Regions from separate parts of the Homo sapiens genome. Here region 2 is linked to region 1. Evidence: fine-mapped expression QTL. A gene starts in region 1. The other region holds a variant in brackets. All regions are shown on one strand. Distances are from middle to middle. Region 1 holds the start of GGA3 (golgi associated, gamma adaptin ear containing, ARF binding protein 3). Region 2 overlaps NUP85 (nucleoporin 85).

Region 1 (8,982 bases):
TGGCAAATTAGCTTTACTCAACATGCCCCGAGTCAGATAACTAAAATACCTCTTAGTCTAAGTAGACACTTTCACTAGGTAAGTAGAGGCCTTTCCTACAGGGTCTGAGAAGGCCACCGCAGTCATTTCTTCCCTTCGGTCAGACACAATTCCTCAGTTTAGCCTTCCCACCTCTATACAGTCTAACAGACCAGCCCTTATTAGTCAAATCAGCCAAGCAGTTTCTCAGGCTCTTAGTATTCAGTGAAACCTTTATATCCCTTACGGTCCTCCGTCTTCAAGAAAAGCAGAACGGACTAAAGGTCTTTTAAAAACACTTCACCAAGCTCAGCCACCAACTTAAAAAGGACTGGACAATACTTTTACCACTTTCCCTTCTCAGAAGTCAGACCTGTCCTCAGAATGCTACAAGGTACAGCCCATTTAAGCTCCTGTATAGATGCTCCTTTTTATTAGGCCCCAGTCTCATTCCAGACACCAGACCAACTTAGACTGTGCCCCCCCCCCCAAAAAAAACCTGTCATCATCCCTACTATCTTCTGTCTAGTCATACTCCTATTCAACGTTCTCAACTACTCATACATGCCCTGCTCTTGTTTACACTGCTGGTTTACACTGTTTCTCCAAGCCATCACAGGTGATATCTCCTCGTGCTATCCCCAAACTGCCACTCTTAACTCTTGAAGTAAATAAATAATCTTTGCTGGCAGGACTATGCTGAATCTCCTTAGGCACTCTCTAATCAGATGTCCTAGGTCCTCCCAATTCTTAGACCTTTTATACCTGTTTTTCTCCTTCTCTTATTCCACTTAGTTTTTCAATTCATACAAAACCATATCCAGGCCATCACCAATCATTCTATACGACAAATGTTTCTTCTAACATCCCCACAAGATCTCCCTTCGGCTTAATCTCTCCCACTCTAGGTTCCCACGCCGCCCCTAATCCCACTTGAAGCAGCCCTGAGAAACATCGCCCATTCTCTCTCCATACCACCCCACAAAAATTTTCGCTGCCCCAACACTTCAACACTATTTTGTTTTATTTTTCTTATTAATATAAGAAGGCAGGAATGTCAGGCCTGAGCCCAAGCCAAGCCATCGCATCCCCTATGACTTGCACGTACACATCCAGATGGCCTGACGTAACTGAAGATCCACAAAAGAAGTAAAAATAGCCTTAACTGATGACATTCCACCATTGTGATTTGTTTCTGCCCCACCCTAACTGATCAATGTACTTTGTAATCTCCCCCACCCTTAAGAAGGTTCTTCGTAATTCTCCCCACCCTTGAGAATGTACTTTGTGAGATCCATCCCTGCCCGCAAAACATTGCTCTTAACTTCACCGCCTATCCCAAAACCTGTAAGAACTAATGATAATCCACCACCCTTTGCTGACTCTCTTTTCGGACTCAGCCTGCCTGCATCCAGGTGAAATAAACAGCCATGTTGCTCACACAAAGCCTGTTTGGTAGTCTCTTCACACGGACGCGCATGAAACCTATATCAAATCAAGCCTCTTAAGACACCAAAACACCGATTTCACCTAGTACAGAAGGAATGAGGGCCTGATAACTGCAGAAATTTAAACTTCTTCGGCTGGGCTGGGCGTGGTAGCTCAAGCCTGTAATCCCAACACTTTGGAGGGAGCTGAGGCAGGTGGCTCACTTGAGGTCAAGAGTTTGACAACAGCCTGGCCAACATGGTGAAACCCCATCTCTACTAAAAATACAAAAATGAGCCAGGTGTAGTGGCACATACCAGTAGTCCCAGCTACTTGGGAGGCTGAGGATGGAGAATTGCTTGCACCTAAGCAACGGAAGTTGCAGTGAGCCGAGATTGTGCCACTGCATTCCAGCCTGGGTGACAGTGCAAGACTCTGTCTCAAATAAATAAATAAATAAAATAAACTTCTTGGGCTGGAAATTGGAGACTTGGTAGAATCTGGTCTTAACTTCCCAGCCTTATCTTCCCTCATTCCCAAACACCTCTGTTACTGTGTGCCCCAAACAGGTTTGCTCTCTCCACATCACCATCTAGTGTTTTTTTTTTTCCAACTTTTCCCATTATTTAATGGCTAGCTCAAATGGAGTATCCTCAATGAATCATCTCTTCCCCCATCCCCAGTTCCCTAAAGAGAATGCCGGCGTTTTAGCACTGCCTTGTATCTTTTTTTTTTTTTTTTTTGGAGACGGAGTCTCGCTCTGTCACCGAGGCTGGAGTGCAGTGGCACAATCCCAGCTCACTGCAAGCTCCACCTCTCGGGTTCACACCATTCTCCTGCCTCAGCCTCCCGTGTAGCTGGGACTACAGGCGCCCGCCACTACGCCTGGCTATTTTTTTGTATTTTTTAGTAGAGACGGGGTTTCACTGTGTTAGCCAGGATGGTCTCGATCTCCTGACCTCGTGATCCACCCGCCTCGGCCTCCCAACGTGCTGGGATTACAGGAGAGTTCTTCATCCACTCCAGCATCACCTCCATCCAACTAAAGGCAAAATCTTCTTAAACTTCCTAACTCCTATAACACCCCACGTAGCAGGTACTCATTAAACATTGATTGATTGATCATGGTGGGACTTGAAAGAAGACTGAAGTCATCAAGAGATGGTTTGTGAGAAAAGAGAATCTGAGATGGGTTTTCAAGCATTTAGTTGAGGAAACGGGAGCAGGGCTTCCAGGTAAGGAGAGCAACGTGTATTGGTAAACCAAGAACATCAGACTGAGTAGAGCAGGAAAACGTAGAAGCCACAGAGAAAAAGGCCTGGAACAACCAAGGCCAGATTACAGGCAACAGTGGAATGATTTGATTCAACACAAGTGCGCTTCTGGGAGCAGAATGGACTGAGGAGAGGTGAGGACGGGAGAGACCTGGGTCTCTGGGCCAAGCAGAGGCTTCTGCAACAATTCAGGCAAACGTGGGGTGACAAGGACGCTGACTGAGACGATGCTGAACCCCAACTGCTGGTTTGTTCAACTGGTACAGTTCACATTAAGTCGTAACAACTGTGAAGCTTATGTCTCTACAGATACCATGTGACTCCCCCCCACCAAGTGTGTCCCTCTCATTTCATAATGTGACTCTAGGCTGGGTGCGGTAGCTCACGTGTGTAATCCCAGCGCTTTGTAAGGGAAAGGTGGGAGGATCACTTGAACTCGAGTTTGAGACCATCCTGGGCAACACAGCAAGACCTCATCTCTACTAAAAATCAAAAGAATTAGCCAAGCATGGTGGCGTGTGCCTATAGTCCCAGCTACTCAGGAGGCTGAGGTAGAAGACTTATTTGAGCACAGGGGTTCAAGGCTGCAGTGAGCTATGATCGCACCCCTGCACTCCAGCCTAGACAACAGCGCGCGAGACTCTGTCTCAAAAACAAGTAACAAAAACAAAATGTAACTCTAAATGTAGCCTATTAAACTCAGCTTAGGTCATTTAAATTATTCAATACCCATATTAATACCTTCAAAGCAAACTAATTCCACTCTGGTTATAGCAAGTTGGGCATTTCTGGGCAAGTGGTTTGACTGGAGTCAGGATGTCCTCTTTTTGTGAAATTATGGCAGTAGTGCCTGCTTTGCTAGAATACTTGGTAAACTAATTTAATGAATATCTGTAAAGTACTTTGAGCTCCTTGGAGAACACTTCCATATATAAAGAAGCCTTATGACCTGCCTGCAACTGCAGATTTTGCAAACGTGATCTTACTTTTTCTCTCTTTTGGGATATGCTCCCCTTTAAACTGAAGCTCAACCTCCTGAAGGGGGTTTCTTACTAGGAAAAATCAGACAATTTGAGGAAATAGCTATCACCTCCAAGATCCCGGAAGCAGTACTAAATAAGAGACCTCAGAACAAGGCAATACTAGGTATCTCACCTATCCCATTACCAGTCCAATTTCTCTCTCCACTTAAAGGAGGCTTCCAGGTCTAGCCTACAGGAAAGTTCACTTATTAACCCTCAGGCAGAGTACTACCTGCTAACCAGGTTAACACACATTTCCTTCGTAGCACTGTAATTCACAGTGCAATGACAGCAATACGCTTCTATAACTACAGCTTCAGACTGTGCTCCTCAGCCTTACTCAGAATAGGCTATCAACACTGACTCGTTAGGATATTCAAGGGGGTATATGTATGTGTGTGGGGGGGGAATTCCCGACACCGATTTCACCATGCTTCTGTGGTCACTGCAGGAAAAAGGTAGAGCTCTCTGTTCTCTATCATCGCTCTCTTTGGAATATTATTCTCACTTCAAGCATTCTGCCTGAGCGAAGCCGTCACTTCTCCAACACATGGTCACAATTCTGAAGCTGCCAGGCGACTGAACGCAGTCGGCAGCACCCACCACTACCGGAGACTCAGCCCCAATCCGAAGCTTCTCCCTTAGTCAGGGATTGGGGCGCTGGGTTCCTGGTGTCACCGCCGGGCGGCGACCCCACCACAATCTCCCCAAAGCGCCGAAGCATGTCAGCCCGAAGATCTTGGCTGTCGCCTTTCCCCGAGCCTGCGGTGCCCGACAGGAGCCCGAGTTCACGCCGCCGCGCGCCAGAGCAAGAGGACGCGCCGCAGCGAGGGAAGCGGGGGCCGGACTGGGGCCCGGCGCCCTGATAGGGAAGGGGCGTGATCGCAGGCTGCTCGCGGCGAGGGCGAGACCGGGCGTGGGCTGCCAAGAGGCGACGCCGTGGAGCCCGGGGAGGGGACGTGGGGGTGAAGACAGGGGCAGCCCAGCGGCTCGAGGGCAGGCAGAAACGGCCGCGGCTACTCACTGAGCCAGGACTCCAGGCTTTCCCCTTCCGCCTCCGCCATATTGCAGCCGCCCGGCCCCGCGGCTTCAAAACTCGCGAGAGTCTGCACGAGCTGAGACGGGGCGGGGCCTGCATGGGGTCCTGAGAGGAGTGAGTGCCGTCACCGAGGGCCGCGCCAGACTGCGACGGATACAGGGAGGGCAAGGGTTTCCTTTTGGCGCTCCCCTTTGGACCCCGGAGTGAAAAACTCTAACGTCCAGATCAGTGGAGAGAAACGCAGATTTAGGACCCTGAGGAGTCTTTTTCACCCGTTTCCCGTCACTCGCTCAGGCGCGCCGAGGGCAGTCCTTGTGGGGTCCTCGTGGCCAGCCAAGATGGCTGCCCCCGCAGTGAAGGTTGCCCGAGGATGGTCGGGCCTGGCGTTGGGCGTGCGGCGGGCTGTCTTGCAGCTTCCAGGGTGAGAGGGTGGCGAGCAGCGGCGGGGGGGCGCTGCGAGGAAGGAAGGGGGCCACAGGCAGGCCGCGTGGGCCCCTAGAGAGAGCATTGCCCTGGGGGCCGGAGTATCTGGATTCAAGCTTCTAAGTTAGCTGCGTGACCCTGCGCCAATCCGAAGGTTTAGTGACTACCTCTCGCCTAAGGAGTCTGGCTGATCTAGGGTTCTAACGCGGAGCTGAAAGTGCGGTTCAGCTAAAGAGCTCAGATCTGGGATCGCCTGTGAATTGGGATGGGTGTGTAGGCGCCAAGCCCATCCTTACCGTTAGCACTTGACCAGGAGGAGACTTTACCCGCCTGCTTGGGGAATGTCCTCCTACTTGGGACAAGGGCCTGAATTGTTGTGGCTCAGGTTTAGCTCGCGGTCTCCGCGCCGCTCCCCCTCGTCGGCGCGTTGGCAGTCATGCCTATTGTTAAGTCAAACCTACTCGCTTGTGGAGTCAGCTTTTGCCTGCCTCCTCCTTTCCCCCCCTCCCAGGCTAACTCAGGTGAGATGGAGCCGCTATAGTCCTGAATTCAAGGATCCCTTGATTGACAAGGAATATTATCGCAAGCCAGTGGAGGAGCTAACTGAGGAGGAGAAATATGTTCGGGAGCTCAAGAAGACTCAGCTCATCAAAGCTGCTCCAGCAGGGAAAACAAGTTCTGTGTTTGAAGACCCAGTCATCAGGTTAGATGGAAACAAACACTTGTTACATGGACTGGGACTATCCCAGGGAGGGTTTCTGGTGAGGATTCTGTGATACAGCCTTGGAGAGCTAAACGTGTTGCTTTTCTCTTTGAAGTAAATTCACCAACATGATGATGATAGGAGGAAACAAAGTACTGGCCAGATCCCTCATGATTCAGGTAAACAGCACTTCCCTCCTCAGTCATCTTTCTTGCCCCCCTACCCCGTAGCCTTGTACTTGGTACTTTCAGTGTAGCTTAAGAGCAAATGGATTCATGTATCTATTATTCAGATTAACTTCCCTGCATGTGTACGGGCTTTAATGAAGCCCTGTAAGAGTCAGCAACTGCCATTCCTTGGTGTTTCGGAAGTAAACACACAATTAAAAAAAAAGGAACAAATAAAAAATAAAACAACTGCCATTCCCCACCTCACCCCCCACCCCCTCCATGCCACAAATCTCAATCCACTCTTTCTGTCCTAGTCTAGCAAAGGGGGAGGCACTTAAAAACTTTGTTTTGGATGTGCTGTGAGAGGAGCTGCATTGCCAGCGCAGAACCAGAGGATGGGAGTAAAGGGCAAGGTACTAGCTTGGCTGGGTAAACCCTTTAGGGAGCCTGGGGCAGCCTCTTCCACCATATTCTTTTGCAGACTCTGGAAGCTGTGAAAAGGAAGCAGTTTGAGAAGTACCATGCCGCTTCTGCAGAGGAACAGGCAACCATCGAACGCAACCCCTACACCATCTTCCATCAAGCACTGAAAAACTGTGAGCCTATGATTGGGCTGGTACCCATCCTCAAGGGAGGCCGTTTCTACCAGGTGAATGAATGGCCAGGGCAAGAAAGCAGGGCCCTCCACATGTGAAACAAGATAGGTGGTGCTTGGGAGTTGGGTCAAGATTGATAGCTTTCTAGCTGGTGCAGTGGGATTGCACCTGTAATCTCAGCACTTTGGGAGCCTAATGCAGGATAGCTTGAGCTCAGGAGTTAAGAGACAGCAGGGCAACATAGGGAGATCCCGTCTCTACAAAAAAAACAAAAAAATTAGCCAGGTGTGGTGGTGTGCATCTGTGCTCCCAACTACTCAGGAGGCTGAGGTAGGAGGATCACTTGAGTCCAGGAGGTCAAGGCTGCAGTGAGTTATGATTACGCCCCTGCATTCCAGCCTGGGCAAGAGAGAGAAACCTTGTCTCAGAAAAAAAAAAAAAAAAAACGGCTGGGCACGGTGGCTCACACCTGTAATCCCAGCACTTTGGGAGGCCGAGGTGGATGGATTACCTGAGGTGGGGAGTTCGAGATCAACAAGGAGAAACCCTGTTTCTACTAACAATACAAAATTAGCCAGGTGTGGTGGCACATACCAGTAGTCCCAGCTACTTGGGAGGCTGAAGCAGGAGAATCGCTTGAACCCAGGATGCAGAGGTTGCAGTGAGCCGAGAGCACACCACCGCACTCCAGCCTGGCAACAGAGCAAGACGCCATCTCAAAAAAAAAAAAAAAAAAAGAATTGAGACTGTTACGGTCCACTCATCTGAGTCCTGTAGCGTAAAAATTATAGGCAGAAGGTGGAAGAGAGTGAAGAAGTATCTAAGTGACATCTGGGAGCCCACCTCCCTTCGCCTTCTTCTGTCAAGCATCCTGTGTGTCCTAACCTGTAAAATTCTCATGGCGAGGGACTATTCATATCCTGTCTTTGTATGCCAGTGTTTGGCATAGTGCTTGACCGATAACTGATGCTTCATCAGTGTTTGCTGAACAGTACTAGGTATCTCTTTCATAGCATTTAATTATATTTTATTGTCCTGAGTTTTCTTGTGTTCTCCTTTTTCAATATCAACTCCATGGGGTAGGGACTTCATTATTGTCTGCACTCTCGTGTCTGGCATGGTACTGACGCATAGTGAGGGCCTGACAAATGATTTTTGGACACGGGGTCTTGTTTTTGGTTTTCTTTAACTGTTTGTATAGGGTCTTTTTGTTTTTAACTTTTTTTTTTTTTTTTGAGATGGAGTTTCGCTTTTGTTGCCCAGACTGGAGTGCAGTGCTGTAATCTCAGCTCTCGGCTCACTGCAGCCTCCGCCTCCCGGGTTCAAGAGATTCTCCTGTCTCAGTCCCTGCCCACCCCAAGTAGCTGGGATTACAGGTGGCCGCCACCATGCCCAGCTAATTTTTTTGTATTTTTAGTAGAGACAGGGTTTTGCTGTGTCTGAAGACTGAAGGGGTCTTGTTTTTAGGTACCTATGGTCTGAGGTGGATTAGTCACCCCAGCTAATGGGGCTTTTCCTATTTGGTTCTTATAACAACTTGGTAGGACTACCATTTAGGAGGGAAAATGGCCAGTGCTTTTCTTCTTTTTCTTTTTCTTTTTTTTTGAGACGAAGTCTCGCTCTGTTGCCCAGGCTGGAGTGCAGTGGTGCATTCTTGGCTCACTGCAACCTCCGTCTCCTGGGTTCAAGCATTTCTACCTCAGCCTCCCAAGTAGCTGGGATTACAGGCGCCTGCCACCACGCCCAGCTAATTTTTGCATTTTAGTAGAGACGAGGTTTCACCACATTGGCCAGGCTGGTGTCGAAATCCTGACCTCAGGTAATCCACCTGCCTCAGCCTCCCAAAGTGCTGGAATTACAGGCGTGAACCATCGTGCCTGGCCTTCTTTTTTTTTTAATATATGGAGACAGGGTCTTGTTATATTGACGAGGCTGGTCTTGAACTCCTGGGCTCAAGCGATCCTCCTGCCTCAGCCTCCCAAAGTGCTGGGATTACAGGTGTGAACCACAGTGCCGGGAGAGGCCAGTGCTTAATTAGTATTTGCTGAATGAACGCCTCTTATGTCTGCTACACTGGGGTCACCTGAAGGTGAGGGAAGCTCGAAGAAAAGACAGGCCCTTCTCCCCAGGCCTGACCAGGGCTGGTCCAGAGGGAACATGTGGCTACTCCTTAGAATTCAGGGAGGCAGGAGGCCCCAAACCCTGGCAGACTCTTGGACCAACTTGCCTATGTCCTGTCTCACCCAGGTCCCTGTACCCCTACCCGACCGGCGTCGCCGCTTCCTAGCCATGAAGTGGATGATCACTGA
Region 2 (9,972 bases), 23 kb before region 1:
CTGGCTAATTTTTGTATTTTATTTATTTATTTTTTGGGGACAGAGTCTCACTCTGTCACCCGGGCTGGAGTGCAGTGGCGTGATCTCGGCTCACTGCAACCCCCGCCTCCCGGGTCCAAGCAATTCTCCTGCCTCAGCCTCCCAAGTAGCTGGGACTACAGGCGCACGCCACCACACCCAGCTAATTTTTTGTATTTTTAGTAGAGATGGGGTTTCACCGTGTTAGCCAGGATGGTCTTGATCTCCTGACCTTGTGATCCGCCTGCCTCGGCCTCCCAAAGTGCTGGGATTACAGGCGTGAGCCACTGCGCCCCGCCTAATTTTTGTATTTTTAGTAGAGATGGGGTTTCACCATGTTGGTCAGGCTGGTCTGGAACTCCTGACCTCAAGTGATCCGCCCGCCTCGGCCTCCCAAAGTGCTGGGATTACAGGTGTGAGCTACTGTGCCTGGCCAGTGCCTCCATGTTTCTTCTTTTTTTTTTTTTTTTTGAGACGGAGTCTCACTCTGTCGCCCACGCTGGAGTGCAGTGGTACAATCTTGGCTCACTGCAACCTCCACCTCCCGGGTTCAAGCCATTCTTCCTCCTCAGCCTCCTGAGTAGCTGGGACTACAGGTGCATGCCACCATACCCGGCTAATTTTTGTATTTTTAGTAGAAATGGGGTTTCACCATGTTGGCCAGGTTGGTCTCAAACTCCTGACCTCAGGTGATCCACCTGACTCGGCCTCCCAAAGTGCTGGGGTTACAGGCATAGGCATGAGCCACCACGCCTGGCCTAGTCAATCTCTTTTAATCCATGACTCTTGTTATGTATTTTGACTCTGATGTTTCCCCAGATTTGGCTCTTCGGAGTTCTTCCAAGTCTGTTTTGAATGCTCTTGGTCTGCATCTCATTGGGACCTATGAGTTTGGAGACAGAAAAAAATCTCCTGCTTTGTGGAGTGGCTGGTCTGAGGTTTTTCTTCTCCTGTTTAGGGCCAGGGTGACTTTTGTAGGTGTCACTTGGGCAATTTGGGGGAATATGCAGGTTACTCAGTGCTCTTGTTTCGCCATAGGAAAGTATCGCGAGTTCCACCGTATGTACGGGGAGAAGCGTTTTGCCGACGCAGCTTCTCTCCTTCTGTCCTTGATGACGTCTCGGATTGCCCCTCGGTCTTTCTGGATGACTCTGCTGACAGACGCCTTGCCCCTTTTGGAACAGAAACAGGTGAAGGTTGCAGCAGCAGTGGTTTTCTTTGCTTGTCAGTCCCTGCTAGAGCTTAGTTGTATAGCTGTTGCCGATGTGCGTGTTTCCTCCTTTGTCGTTCTGCCTGTGCGCGTGTATTCCCCTTAGCGCCCTCTCTGGGATTCCAGACTCACACAGGAAACAAACACTGCTTGATTTGAAATGAGGTATTCGTATACAAAGCACACTATTGCGAAGGGTATGAAAGGAAGAACGTCCGAACATGGGCCCCTGCCCCAACCAATGCAGGCCAGGGCTGGGGGCAGCCAAGCAAGGCAGGCTCTCTTCCCTAGGTGATTTTCTCAGCAGAACAGACTTATGAGTTGATGCGGTGTCTGGAGGACTTGACGTCAAGAAGACCTGTGCATGGAGAATCTGATACCGAGCAGCTCCAGGTCATTTTCACTTTTGGGTTGATGGTTCCACATGGAGGTGGGAAAAGGCTCCCTCTATCTCAGGCTTCCCCTTCCCTCCAGAAACACTGGCTCCTATGGACACATGTGCCTCTGTTCCCCTTAACCTGTGTAATTCACACACCACCTTCTTTTAGGAGAAAATCAGGGATTCTAGTGTTCTCATCTCTACATTTTGTTCTTTGCTGTTCATCATTTCCAGTATGGCCCTTTGGTATTGCTTTCTTTTACATCGATAATTTGCTGGAAGCTACTATGAATGTTAAGTGCCCTCTACCTTTGGATTAGCTAGACCCTTCGGGAGTGTGAAAGGGCTCCTTCCTGCTCTTAGCTCATGCTGGCGCTCTCTGCTTTGCAGGATGATGACATAGAGACCACCAAGGTGGAAATGCTGAGACTTTCTCTGGCACGAAATCTTGCTCGGGCAATTATAAGAGAAGGCTCACTGGAAGGTTCCTGAGAACTGCTTCAATGTGGTATCTTTGTATGGCAATGTATATAGATTTTTTTAAAAGAATAAATGTTGTTTTGCAAATGTAGGTTCTTAGAGTCCACCCAGGGAATTTTTTATCTGTCTAGTCTGAACCTGAGGTGGTAAGAGATTAAAAAATGCTTGTTTTATGTTCTTTTTTTTTTGAGACGGAGTCTTGCACTGTTGCCTGGCCTGGAGTGCAATGGCACGATCTCAGCTCACTGCAACCTCCGCCTCCAGGGTTCACGTGATTCTCCTGCCTCAGCCTCCCAAGTAGCTGGGATTATAAGTGCACACCATACCCAGCTAATTTTTTTGTATTTTTAGTAGAGATGGGGTTTCACTGTGTTGGCCAGACTGATCTCAAACTCCTGACCTTGTGATCTGCCCGCCTTGGCCTCTCACAGTGCTGGGATTACAGGCGTGAACCACCACACCCGGCCTTGTTTTATGTTCTGATACGCAACTGTCTTCCTGTGCCTCCTTAGATAAGAAATCACCCCCCAGGTCGGGTGCAGTGGCTCACGTCCTGTAATCCCAGCACTTTGGGAGGATCCCTCAACCCCAGGAGTTTGAGACCAACCTGGGCAACATAGGGAGACTCCATCTCTGTTTAAAAAAAAAAAAAAAAAAAACCCCAAAGTTGTGGTGACTGCAGTGTCTTGGAAGTCTGAACAAGAACGCTTGGTGGTATACTTGTGCTTCTGAAATCTTGCCTCACCTCTTCTGGAACACTTAACATTTTGGTTATTTAGTTCCCTTAAAATATAAGCGTACAGGAACCCGCACTTTTAACAAAAACCTTGGGCAGTTCTATCATAGGCTGTCCTCATGTATATCTAGAATTCATAGGTGGTACCTTTTCCTCCATCAGGGTGAATGGCGTCTATACTAGGAAGATTCCAAGTACAGTGAAAATGGTTTTATTTAACATGCAGCAAAACAAGGGCAGCAGAGCTGGGATATCCAGTACAGCCATTTGCCACGAAGCACTGACCTCAACAGTAACGAGTAACACTCAAATAACTGTAATGTCTAGAGCATAACACAAAGTTCCATTTCCACATAGTAATTCCACAGACATTCCCAGGGCTGCAGCAGCCAGTCTCTGGAAAGCTCTTGGATTTATTCCTTAAGTAGTGAAAAATGATTCACTTTTGACTTGTCCTCTTCTAATGAAGCAGTGAAACCTGCTTGCTAAAGACAGCGAGGGGCAGGGAAGGGATATGACCTCTTCCCATAGTAAGGAATAAGGAAGCCTGGCAAGGGGCAGGGAGGAACCAGGGAACATGGTCTGTGCCACCTTCCTTTCCCCAGAGATGTCCGATTGCTGAGCTTGTTCACCTGGGCTCCGCAAGCTTCCCCCGTGTCTATGGCAGCTGGTGATTTTTTTTTTGTGACGGAGGCTTGGAGTACATGTCCCAGGATCACATCCAGCAGCTAGAGTGGCTGGGACAAGCTGGCGGGGGCCAAGCACTGTTGAAGCAATAGGGTCTGGTGACTCAGCTCAAGTGTGGCCCGATCTCATCACCTCCAGACCCAACATCTCGCTGACAGTGCCCCTCAGTAGCTGGGGAACAGTTGAGGTTTCTGGGCAGCACATTAGGACATATGTCTAGTGTAACATTTGTGATCCTGAGGCCTCCTGTGTCCAGCCACAGGTGCCACACCACATGCCATCTGGTGAGAGGAGAGGGAGGCCAAAGCAGTAGGATGTAGAGTGGCGGTAGATTCCAAGGGGAGGATAGCAGTTTATTTCATGCCAAGCAAGAGGTAGTCAGTAGGATGGCCTGTCCCCACGGCTGGAGGCACGCTTTTCCCAGAAAGCTGAGTACCTGCTTCTGGAGAAGGGGAAATACTGGCTCTCTTCATTTTCCTTCCTATCCCTAGTTGGGCCTGTCATGAGGCCAAATTCCATGTCCTGCCAAGATGTCCATAGGACACAGCCTGCCACTGCCAGGGACAAGCACACAACTCATCACTCCGTGGCCATTCCAGGACGATGCTGTCCACCAGAGGCAGGGCTGGGGACTTTGCAGTATGCCAGTTCCTTATTCTGGGCCAGGCACCTTCCTGGGCCACCTCCCTGGGGATGGCAGCAGGAGCTGGTTGGCGGGGGAAGCATGGAATTGCAACAGGGCTGCAGCCCCTTGGGCCGTGCATCTGTCAGGTGTGAGGATGTGGCTCTTGTGGGGAATGACCCATGACAGTCTCTCTTTAGAGACTCCCACCCCCCACCCCCCACCCCAGTGGCTTCAGTGAATGCCAGTAGAAGGAAGCAAACACCTACGCCAAGCCTGGGGGTCCATGTTCCCGGGACAGCAGTGAAGTCAGGGGCCACTCCGCACCCCTGACAGCATATGGCCACTTCAAGTCACACAGGTAGATAAAAACAGGTCCTTTTAGGGGCCAAAGGAGAGGTTATCACAGCAGCAGTTTGGTTCTCAGCAGAAATGCCCAGGGCCCCTGTTCCACATCAAAGCTACAAGCACTGTTGTCAGGGCATGGAGAGTGACGGGACCAGAGCCCTCCTCGTCTCAGGGCAGCCTGCCTGGCTTCAAGGTGGAGATCACAGCGTCCTCTGGGGTCATAGGTTCCCCCACTGTTCCACAGGAGGGAACTGGTCCACCTCGCCCACCTCTGTGCTCAGCTGCTCCCCCAGGGCGAAGGTCAGCTTATACCGAAGCCGCACCTTCTCCTGTGACAGAGGGCAGCAAGTGAGATCCAGCCCAGGCGGCCCCTTGGCAGGACGCCCTCTATTCTGCTACCCTCTCTGTGCTAGAGGAATGGTCCCTTTTCCCCGCAACCCCCAACCATGCTCAGACACTTAACCTAAGGCAGCAAAGGGATGTGTCAATCCTACAGTCAAAACACTTCCAGCTGGGAGGTGGTGGGCCTGACGTCCTAATCTGGGGCAGCTGGGGCCTCAGGCTGGGACCCCTGGGTTCTTTGCTGCTCACCTTCAGTGGATTGGCCAGCAACATGACCTGGGTGATGGCTGCAGGTGGCTGGATGGGGCTAAATGGAGAGAGTTCTGTCCCAGAAGGTGGCTGCAACTTCACTTTCATTGACTAAAGAGAGAGAAACTCCTTTGAAGAGAACTGGTAGGTGCCCCCAGATGGAACCTGCAGTGCACACACACACTGCCACCTGCTGGCTGCAAAGGCCTCTACACAACAGGGTCAAGATAAGGCCGTTTTGGCCCCAGGGAGACACTGGTACCTTGGGCACTGCAGCCTGCAGCACGATGCTCTTGACAGGTAAGGGAGCCGTGTTCAGCATGGACACCACCACCACCAGCACGTCAGGTCGTCCTGGGGGACACTCCTTGGCAAAGTGGAAGAGGATGCGGAAGCCGTTTTTATCGTAGGCTGTCACAGGAAGGGCACTGCCTGTAAGAACGTGACGTGAGTGTGGGAGGAGCAGCACCAGAGACACCCAACAGAGCCCCGGCGGTGAGGAGAAAAGGGCTACTCCGTGGTCATGATGAGTCCAGTGCTTCCTAACGGAATCTGGGAGAGGCGCTCAGTGAGGAGCTTAAGACTGAGAATGCAGGCAGGGAGGCCTGCCTGGCTTTAAGGGACCCCCTGCAAAGAGTGCCTGGATCCATCCCTGTCGCATGTCCTACAGCTCCGTGGCTATAGGCCCCACCGCCCCACCCACCTCAATCCTCCAACACCTACTAGGCTTGATCGATTCCAGGGGCACGTGGATGCTGGCCAGGGAGAGCTCAGGCCCCTTCGGGGGGCTGCCCTGGGACTGGAAACTCAGTGGCTGGAAGAGCGGGCTGCCGGGCCCCGTGGAGAAGGGCAGGAGGGGCCTGGCTGGGGTGGTGGTGGGGATGAGAGGGGAGGTAGTGGGTTTCACCAAGCCCGAGGTCCTGGGAGGTGGGAAGGATGGAAAGCACGTCAGAGAGCCAGCCAGAGCTGCAGGACTCTCACCCAAGGCCCCTGACCATGCTCTTACCCAGGCCCACCCCTTGCCTTCCAGCCTGACTGATGGGACTACAAGGCACCCCCACCCCTTCAAAGTTAGCTCTGGTTCTGACACATTCAGGCCCAACCCTCAGCAACCCCACATCTCCTCCCACTCATTACACTTTGGCCTCTTCTAGAAGCTGATCGAGGGCATCCAGGTGGTGCAGCGCGCTGTTGCCCAACGCCAAGCCATGGTGCCCAGGGACTGCGGGCTCAACTTTTGGGGCCAAGGCTGGGGCCACTCCAGTAGAAAACAAGGAGGAGCCCGCACTGGGGGCAGGAACACTGGCTGGGACCACAGGAGCTGGGAAGGGAGGCGGCAGTGGAGCTTGGGAGCTGCTTGAGGAGGGGGCTGAGGGCTGGAGCAGAGGAGCATCGGAGGCGCCACAGGCAGCGGTCCCCGGCCTGGGGCTGAAGAAGTCCAGGTCGGACTGTTCCCTCTATGAACAACAGAAAGGGTGGTGAGCCGAGGGCGGGTGGGGAGGGCCTGCCGCTGGAACGGGGCGCAGCCCTCCAAGGACTGCACGGAAGACAGCCCCGGAGGCACTCATTGTTCCCCGCTGCAGCTGGCACGCTCTGGAGGGAAGGACAGCTAACTGCAGCCCAGGAGACATGACGCTGGAAAGTGGAGGTCCTTGGCACAGTAGTGCTGTCACCGATCCTGTGCCCCTACCTGGAGCAGGTGCCACTGGCTGTTCCCAGCTGACTCTTTGGGAGGAACATTAGGGGCTGGGTCGGCGAGGCCTGACAATAGAGAAGAAAACAGGATGAGAAGAGGCTCTGAGCTAGGCAGCCCTAGCCCCGCCTTGCCTGAGGAGGGGTCAGGTGACAAGTGACATCAATGGGTGAAGGCGC[C/A]GGGAGAAGCTGTTCTGCAGGCAGCCTCCAGAGGGGAATGGAGCGCTCCAGTCCATGATGCAGAAGCGGGGGGCCTGTGGGGCGGGGTGCAGGGCAGGAGGCAGAGTCCACCGGGAGGATGGCCCTGGGGCCCTCAGGGTCGCTGAACTTCACTGAGTACCTCCAACTCAGGGTTCTTTGCCCACCCCAACAGTCACACTGGGGCCCCGCTCAGGGCTCCTAATTCCACACACCCTTCCTCCCAGAGCCCTGTCAGGGGATGCCCCTGACGCCCCCTGTGGGCCGCACCCAAGCAGAGTAGCTCCTCGTCCAGCCAGGAGAGGGCGTTGCTTGTGCTGCTGGGCCCCAGGGTGGCCTCGGCCTGGCTAGAGGAGCGGCTCCGTGGAGGTCCTGAGGCCTGGGGTGGTGGAGGGAGGATTGGGATGCCTGAGGAGGGTGGAGTAGGTGCTGGGGCCAACACGGAGGACAAACTGTTGGTCGTGTCCAGCTCCGCAAGGTCGATGAGCGTGCCTTGGTTACTGCACTGACTGTTTCCTGGATGGGTCAACAGAGCAGAACAGGAATAATTAGGGGTCTTCTAGTGGCTGTGTGGCAGGAGGCAGCACCCTAGGCACAGAGGTCACTGCTACAGCCTCTGGCCTAATCCAACGGCATCTCTGCCAGGGGATGCTGCAAAGCAAGCCCGAGAAAGCAGGTGGGGAAATTCCTACCCACATCTCCAGGCCTCCGGGAAGCCGGAGGATTGCTTGGAATGGCAAAGAACTCCCTTGGGCCTTGTGCAACACCACCACGCTGGCCAGCCTACACCCGCAGCTTCATGATAGGGGCCTGAGGCTGGTCTGGAGGAGCCTAGAGTTGGGGACCAGAGCATCTCACCTTCCGAGTCAGGCAGGGTTAAGGTAGCCACCTCGCCATTGATGACCTGCCCTTCAATAATTGTTTTGTAAGAGTTGATGACCCGGGAGAGGTTGTCACTGGCTTGCAGGATGTCCCCTGGAGCAGGAAAGAGAGACTTCTCACTCCTGTTGTGACAGTTCCCACCCACATATCCAAATGCCTGGCTTATCCCTGACCGTCGCTCTTTCACTCACCCAAACTGTTATCATTGTCCTCAGTCTCACTGGCGAGTTTAAATAAAGTCCGCCTCTTGTTCTCACACTGATCAAACAGCTCCTGAAAGAGACTCGGACATAAAAATCAAACCACAAAGGCCCTTAGAGATCATCTGATTCATTCAGGGTTCATGCCCAGAAAATGACCGGGATATGCCAATTGCCACGGTCAATTACCAGCAAAGCTGGGATCACAGCGCACGTCTTCTTGCCACCAGCCACCACCACCACACCACATCACCCAGGATGTTTGTCTAGGTAGCAGTCACCAGGATGGGTCAGGGGAAGTCAGTCCCCTCCTGCCTTCCAGGCTGGCATGTTCCTCAGAACTCAAAATATCCACCCAACCATGGCCTGCACCACATGGGCATCAGGGTTACAAGGAAGCCTCTCTGTCTTGATGTCCCCAAGGTAGTAAGGAAAGGGAGAGAGCAGGGGTGAGCACCGAGAGTGTGGTCTCTGGAGTCAGACTCAGGTTTCCATCTGGCCCTTACACCCTGGACAAGTCAGCTGATCCCAGGAGGCAAATGGGGACGCCACCCTCTACTGACGTGGCTGCTGTGCAGATGAGTAAGGTCATGAATACACTGCCAAGTGCACAGCCCGTGTCTCTGACAAGGCACGTGCTCAGCAAATGCTGGCTGAGCTCCTGAAGGGCAGCGCAGCCCCGGGAGGCAGCCTTTGCCGTCGGCGGTCCCACCTTCATCAGCTCTCTGTCCCCGTCCGAAGAGTCCTCCTGGCTGTAATGAAGCAGCATCTCACTGAGCAGTCTCACGTTGTTGTTAACTTCCTCTAACGTGTGCAGACGCTTGGTCACCTTCTGGATCCGTGCCTCGTCCTGCCCCAGTGAAGAAGTTCAAGAGAAAGAGAGCGTCACTTGACTGTCTTTCCACTTCCACCAGGTCACACCTTACCCCACAACACAAGTACAGACGCTCGGAAGCTCCTTTCAGTGTGGGGTGCCTGGGGCCCAGTCTATACTTCTGCTTTCACAACACTGCTCCCAACCCACTCCTCTCTTCCGTGCTCCCGCGGAAGCTATTGTGCTCCTCCTCCCACTCTCAGCCACCGGGGCACAGGTAGGGCAGCTGGCAGCAGGGGAGAACAAAACAGGCCCGTGTCCGGGGCAAAGCGGCTTCTGCTGTGTGGCCATGGGCTCCTCCACCCCGTGCCTGAAGGACCGGGGCCCACTCACTTCCTTCACCATGGACTTGATGAGCTTGTTGGCCTCCTGCAGGTCATCTGGGTTTTTGCTTTTCAGCAGCTTGGCTAAAAGCTGAGAGAGGAGGAAATCAGAGGTGAAGGGAAGAGGCAGCACCCGTACCCCAGGGAAACCCCAGAGGCTCCCCGCAGCACAGTGCAAACCACATTCCCCTGCTGCCACCCACTCTCGTATGAGAAAATCCCAGGCCCAGGGTGTCCTTTACCTTGGACTTCTCCTCATCATCAAAAACAGGGTTTTTGGGACGAGGTGGTGGAGAGGGGATCAGCGTCCTATCCACAGGAATTGGTGGGTCAGACTGCACTATGCCTGAAAGGGGACATGGCAGCACGTGCACTCAGGCTGTGGTTGCCTTGTCACCCCTCCTCATACACCAAGGGCCACGTCCCTGTGATCAAGACCTGCAAAGGGTAGCAGGGTGGAGGGCAGGCTGCTACACCTTATCCCATCCAACTCCGACTCAGCCTTGCCTGGGGACAAATGCTGTTCTCTTCAGGAGGGACTCTGGGGATCCCAAACCTTCCCTTCTCTCCTTGCCTGGGCCAGCCTTCGAGGGCTGCCTGGAGGCTGCGGGCAGGCAGACACGTACCCTGTCTCTTCAGCATGTGGTAGGCGTCTTTGATCTTTGCTTCTTCTGGCAGGGCCATGGTCCAGCTGTACAGCAGCTCAATAACCTTGGTCTTCACTTTCTCAGA

The links.
Region 2: its variant is fine-mapped to the expression of GGA3 in whole blood (TOPMed, PIP above 0.99).

The regions. Positions count from the first base shown.
Region 1 is chr17:75,256,782-75,265,763 of GRCh38, forward strand. GGA3 (golgi associated, gamma adaptin ear containing, ARF binding protein 3) reads right to left here and starts at 4,825. Exons shown (of 17, transcript NM_138619.4): 1 at 4,767-4,825. The coding sequence starts at 4,806. It overlaps MRPS7 (mitochondrial ribosomal protein S7), which reads left to right and starts at 5,098. Exons shown (of 5, transcript NM_015971.4): 1 at 5,098-5,202; 2 at 5,716-5,907; 3 at 6,023-6,086; 4 at 6,559-6,726; 5 at 8,921-8,982. The coding sequence starts at 5,120. RefSeq lists enhancers at 4,231-4,330, 4,801-5,210, 5,007-5,884.
Region 2 is chr17:75,233,581-75,243,552 of GRCh38, forward strand. It overlaps NUP85 (nucleoporin 85), which reads left to right. Exons shown (of 19, transcript NM_024844.5): 17 at 1,057-1,208; 18 at 1,520-1,621; 19 at 1,998-2,178. The coding sequence ends at 2,099. It overlaps GGA3 (golgi associated, gamma adaptin ear containing, ARF binding protein 3), which reads right to left. Exons shown (of 17, transcript NM_138619.4): 5 at 9,867-9,972; 6 at 9,483-9,586; 7 at 9,251-9,331; 8 at 8,756-8,893; 9 at 8,035-8,116; 10 at 7,820-7,936; 11 at 7,232-7,477; 12 at 6,762-6,832; 13 at 6,209-6,528; 14 at 5,795-5,991; 15 at 5,334-5,503; 16 at 5,072-5,182; 17 at 3,019-4,809. The coding sequence ends at 4,699. Among named protein-coding and RNA genes, the nearest start is that of GGA3, 23 kb to the right of the region's middle. RefSeq lists silencers at 1,071-1,234, 7,068-7,362 and an enhancer at 9,416-9,465. The variant C/A (reference allele first, on the strand shown) is at 6,944.